Linked DNA regions of Homo sapiens: region 2 is linked to region 1. Evidence: fine-mapped expression QTL. A gene starts in region 1. The other region holds a variant in brackets. All regions are shown on one strand. Distances are from middle to middle. Region 1 holds the start of CORO7 (coronin 7). Region 2 overlaps CDIP1 (cell death inducing p53 target 1).

Region 1 (2,898 bases):
TTTTCAAACCTTAGAAATGCAAGAATCAGCTGGGTGCGTTGGCTCATTCCTATAATCCCCACACTTTGGCAGGCCAAGTTGGGAGGACTGCTTGAGTCTCGTTCGAGACCAGCCTGACCATCATGGTGAAACCCCGTCTCTTACTAAAAATAAAAAATTAGTTGGGCGCGGTGGCAGGCGCCTGTAATCCCAGCTATTCGGGAGGCTGAGGCAAGAGAATTGCTTGAACCCGCGAGGCAGAGGGTGCAGTGAGCTGAGATCGCGCCACTGCACTCCAGCCTGGGTGACAGGGACTCCGTGTCAAATAAATGAATAAATACTAAAGAAAAATTAAAAGCTATTATTATTATTATTTTTAGAGGCAGGGTCTCTTTCTGTCTCCCAGGCTGGAGTGCAGTGGCACGGTCACAGATAACTGCAGCCTCGACCTCTTGGGCTCAAGGGATACTCCTGCCTCAGTCTCCCAAAGTTCGGGATTACAGACCTGAGCCACCGCGCCTGGCCGGATGCAGAGCGCCTGGCCGGATGCAGAGGCTTTTGAGTAGGCCCGGTGGACAGGGATTTGCTTTAGACCTGGGCCCCTGTTCCCCCTCTGCCTCTTACCACTGGTGTGACCTGGGGACCGACAGTTTACACTCTCCTTTAGCCGGGGGTTTCCTGTCTCTGAAATGGAGCTAATTTCTCCCCTCTCTACAGGAAGAGGTAGATAGTGCTGGAAGGCGTGCTAGGTACACCGCAAAGACTCCACAGCAAATCCTGCACACAAAATCGCGAATGCTGCAGCCGAGACCCCACGCAAGCAAGCACCGCAGGAGACGTGGGCTGACAGCTGCGCCCCACGTGACCTCCCACCCGCGCCAGTCCGTCCCCTCGGTATCAGGGCGTGGCCTCGCGGGGCGGCCGTACCTGGATTGGCCGGGAGGCGGGACCGGTGGTGCGCGCGCGAAAGGAGAGGGGCTTGGGGGCGTGGCCCAGGGGGCCGGAGACGGCTGCGATTGGCAGTGGGGCGCGCCGGGGGCGTGACCGCGGCATTGGGTCCCGGGTGGGGCCGAGGCAGCGGGAGTCGCGGTTGCTCAGCGTGCACCTGAGACCCGACGCCCGGGGTCCTCGAAGACGCGTCCGCCGCCGTGCCCGTCGCCATGAACCGCTTCAGGGTGTCCAAGTTCCGGCACACCGAGGCTCGGCCGCCCCGCCGCGAGGTGAGTCCGGCCCGAGGACCGGGCGCTGTCGCCTCGGGCCCCGTCCGGCTGCCCCTCCCCCTGCCCGGACCCCACAGGGGTGCCCTCCAGGGCCGTCTGGAACCCCGAGACCTCCATCCCCGGGGAACCCCCCTTCAGGCCAGGGCCCCGGCGTCCGGGCCGTTTCGTCGCCGCCGGAGGGCAGAGTCCGGCACTCCCGTGACTCGCTCTGGCGCTCGGTGACCCTGGCGGTCTGCCCGCCTCGCCCACCTCGCCCCGGGACCCCCGAGGCGGCGCAGCCCTCCTAGCCGGGGCCCAGGCCTGCGAGGCCGCCTGCCTTCCCAGCTTCCGGTCGGCCTCGCCGGGAGCCGGGGCTCGGGGCGCTGCCGGCGCCTGGCTCCTCCTCCCTGCCGCCCCGGGTCGCCCCTGCCCCTGGCTGGGCTGTGGGGAGACGCCCCTCTCTCCTCTGGCCCCGGCGAGCCCAAGTGTGTCAGTGGTGGGGAGGGAGCCCCTCGGCCGCACGCGCCCCTCCCTCGGGTTTCCGCCGGTGCTTCCTCCTCTCGCCGCTGGCGCAAGCTCTTTCTTTATCTCGGTGATGCTGCCACGGCTGGGTGGGGCCTGGGGAAGCCTGAGCAGGTGGAGCCCCAAAGAATTGCTGAGCCAGGTGCCGGGAGACCCTTCGGACCCCCGAAACGGCAGGAGGACTGATGAGGGGTGCGCCTTGGAAACGATGTCAGCTCTGCTCTTCCGCTTTCCGTGTTATTTGTAAGGCCTGGGAGTGTCCTCCGATAACTGGGCCTAGGAGTTGACCTCAAGTGACCCCATCAGGGTCCCAGAGCAAGTCAGGGCAGTCTGGGTAGAGGTTCCGTTTTTGTAGTGTGGACTATATTTCCTCTGCTTCCACTTTATGCTGTGCTAAGCTGCTGGAGACATCCCGGTGAACACAACGGCATTTTCCTTCCCCTGTGGCACTTGTAGCCTCATGAGGGAGACAGCAAGCAGACAAACAAGAGCATTGGAGGTTTTCATAACGACATTGAAGAACACACATGAGGGACTGGGATGGAGAATGGAGGGGGCCAGTCTCAGTAGCGTGGTCAGGAAAGGCTGCCTGGAGTAGATGGCATTTTAGCTGAGGCCAGAAGGGTGAGAATTGAGAAAGAGCCTGGTGGAGAAATGGAAAGTGAGCATGAGTGGATGGAGGGGATGGCCGGAGCAGTATGGTGACAGATGAGTCCAGAGTGGTCCTGCAGAACCCAAGGGCCACCGGAAGAAGTTGGGTTTTATTCTGATTGCAGTGCAGAGCCATTGAAAAGTTAGGGGGAGGGGCTGGATACCATGACTCACGGTAATCCCAGTACTTTGGGTGGACTGCTTTGAGCTCAGGAGTTCGAGACCAGCCTGGGCAACATTGCGAAACCCCTCTGAACAACAAGTTAAAGAAAAAAAAATTAGCCAGGTGTGGTGACTCACTCCCGTGGTCCCAGCTACTTGGGAGGCTGAGGTTGGAGGATCTCTTGAGCCGAGGAAGTGGAGGTTGCAGTGAGCCGAGATTGTGCCACTACACACCAGCCTGGGCAATAGAGTGAGACACTGTCTCAAAAAAAGAAAAAAACAAACAAGAAAAGTTAGGAGGAGGTACCTAGGTTTGCATCAAGACAGCCGGTGGCTCTGAGTGCAGTTAAGTACTGCTTGGAGGGGTCTGGAGAATACTTGAGGG
Region 2 (2,898 bases), 110 kb before region 1:
TCAGCATGATATAAATTGCACAGTAATTGTCATCATCATAGTTCCTAGAGGCCTTAGTACTTTTAGGTTTAGAACCATTCTTTGAGTCCTGTCTGCCTTTTGATTTTGCTTCTGCTTAAGAGCAACAGTGTCACCGGGTGCGGTGGCACTTGCCTGTAATCGCAGCACTTTGGGAGGCCGAGGCAGGTGGATCACGAGATCATGAGATCAAGACCACCCTGGCTAACACGGTGAAACCCCGTCTCTACTAAAAATACAAAAAATTACCCAGGCGTGTTGGCGGGCGCCTGTAGTCCCAGCTACTCGGGAGGCTGAGGCAGGAGAATGGTGTGAACCCAGGAGGCGGAGCTTGCAGTGAGCCAAGATCCCGCCACTGCACTCCAGCCTGGGCGACAGTGCGAGACTCCGTCTAAAAAAAAAAAAAAAAGTAACAGTGTCTTCTTTTTTCTCGTGTACTTCCTCTCTCAGGCTCCTGTGGCAGGCCTTCAGTGGTGTGCTCTTCACCCATGGCCTCTCCCGTGACTCATCACAATTCTTGATAAGGGGCTGCTCCTACCGCCATATCACAGATGAAAAAAAATCTGAGACTGGAGAGTCAGGTGGCAGGGCAGGGTGGTGGGCGTGGGGCCTGATGCCTGTGCCCCACTCGGTGCAAGATTCTGCCCCTGCAGCTCTGCCTGCGACACAGGGCTCATGCTTCTGTTGGAGGGCGCAGTGGTGTTTGGGGCCATGGGGTTGGGCTGATGTCTTTTTTATTTTATTTTTAATTTTATTTTTATTTTATTTTTTATTTTATTTTTATTTATCTTTTTTTTTTTGAGATGGAGTCTCACTCTGTTGCCCAGGCTGGAGTGTAGTGGCGCGATCTCAGCTCACTGCAAGCTCCGCCTCCCGGGTTTGCACCATTCTCCTGCCTCAGCCTCCTGAGTAGATGGGACTGCAGGCGCCCGCCATCATGCCTGGCTAATTTTTTTGTATTTTTAGTAGAGACAGGTTTTCACCATGTTAGCCAGGATGGCCTCAATCTCCTGATCTGTGATCCGCCTGCCTTGGCCTCCCAAAGTGCTGGGATTACAGGTGTGAGCCACCGTGACCAGCTATTTTTTATATTTTGAGACAGATTCTCAGACTATTGCCCGGGCTGGAGTGCGACGGTGTGATCTCGGCTCACTGCAACCTCCGCCTCCTGGGTTCAAGTAATTCTCCTGCCTCAGCCTCCC[G/A]AGTAGCTGGGATTACAGGCGGATGCCATCATGCCCAGCTAATTTTTGTATTTTTTGTACAAACAGAGTTTCACCATGTTGGCCAGCCTGGTCTTGAACTTCTGCCCTCGTGATCCGCCCACCTCTGCCTCCCAAAGTGCCGTAATTACAGGCATGAGCCACCGTGCCTGGCTAGGCTGGTGTCTTATTTCCGCTGAGACTCATCATGGTCGAGGAGGAGCATGTAGGGTTGGGTGGGAGGAGAGCTGGCAGATGGGAAAACCAGATCTGTTTTCTGGTCCTTTCTGTGACTTAAGTTGAGCTTGTTTTGAAGTGTTTAGAATTCCCAAGGCATCAGATACACCCATCTTCAAGTGTAAAAATAAATAAATGGTTCAGAGCCACCCGCGATGTTATCTGAGGGAGGGACTGTCTCGTCCTGCCTCCATCAGGACAATGGGAAATGGGCCATGTTCAGGATTTTCCAGGCCTGCCTGTGCTAGAACTTGGCAGCCGAGGACAACGGTCCCAGAGAAGGGGACACATTGGCAACCTCCCTGAGTCTTGGGAGGGCTCAGCCTCACTAGAGGCTGCTCTGCAACTGAGTGGACCTTTGTGGAGGGCCTCCTCTTTCCTGCTCATCACCCAGCGTTGGGAATAGGGTCCCTCTGGTCAGCTGCGAAAGGCCACAGGGAATCCTGGCCTGGTCCCACATGGACTTGGGTGGCTGGATTAGCCCCAGGTTTGGATAGGGCATGGTGGAGAGGGGAGTGGAGAGGGTTTGGGGCCCAGGAGCAGTCTCACAGCAGGGGCTCCCTTTTGAGCACCTCCTCACTTGGAGCACTTCCTTCATGTCCCTGTGCTGGGCACCTGCATCCAAACAGTGCATGCTCTATTAACGTTCACTGCACGCCATCGTCCTCCTCAGCTCCTCCTTGAGCCAGTGCTCATGCTGAAATGAGCACTGGAGTTGCAGAAGAATGTGTCCTCGCTCCAAGGCAACCAGCTGCACTTCTCTCGGGGCCTGTTTTAACTACGGAAGCATCTGCTCCAGCCTTCCCGCCAGGGAGTATTCCCCATGCCTTGGCCTCTGTACTGGCTGAGGCTGTGTCATGTGACCTAAAGAAAGCCATGATCCTTTTGATCATGGATCACTTGAAGAGAACTTGTGTTCCTTCAGACCTAAGGAACTGTAGAGATATATTTTTGTGGTGGAGGGGGGATAGAGTCTCACTCTGTTGCCCAGGCTAGAGTGCATTGGCGTGACATAGCTCTTTGTAGCCTAGAATCCCTGGGCTAGAACAATCCTCCCGCCTCAGCCTCCCAAGTAGCTGGGACCACAGGTGTCTATCACCATACCTGGCTAATTTTATTTTTTTGTAGAGATGGGATCTTGTTATGTTGCCCAGGCTGGTCTTGAACTCCTAGCTTTAAGCAGTCCTCCCACCTTGGCATCCAAAGTGCTGGAATTACAGGTGTGAGCCACTGCACCTGTCTGTGCTGTATATTTGTAATGACACTTGTTAATACTTAACCTGAAAATAATTTACCAATAATTAACCAGTAAACCAAGTTTTATTACTCATGTGGAAGATGTGGGAGGTGGTCAGTTAGTTGCTGGTGTGGTGTCCCATGGCTGTCCTAGGCACTGGCCTCCATCCCAAGGCCCTCATGGTGAAGCACAGCTACTGGAGCCATG

What was found.
Region 2: its variant is fine-mapped to the expression of CORO7 in whole blood (TOPMed, PIP 0.99).

The regions. Positions count from the first base shown.
Region 1 is chr16:4,414,760-4,417,657 of GRCh38, reverse strand. It overlaps CORO7 (coronin 7), which reads left to right and starts at 1,062. Exons shown (of 28, transcript NM_024535.5): 1 at 1,062-1,199. The coding sequence starts at 1,140. It overlaps CORO7-PAM16 (CORO7-PAM16 readthrough), which reads left to right and starts at 1,062. Exons shown (of 31, transcript NM_001201479.2): 1 at 1,062-1,199. The coding sequence starts at 1,140. It overlaps LOC124903635 (a long non-coding RNA gene), which reads left to right. Exons shown (of 3, transcript XR_007064963.1): 3 at 697-933.
Region 2 is chr16:4,524,620-4,527,517 of GRCh38, reverse strand. All of the region lies in intron 1 of CDIP1 (cell death inducing p53 target 1), which reads left to right. Among named protein-coding and RNA genes, the nearest start is that of CDIP1, 13 kb to the left of the region's middle. The variant G/A (reference allele first, on the strand shown) is at 1,221.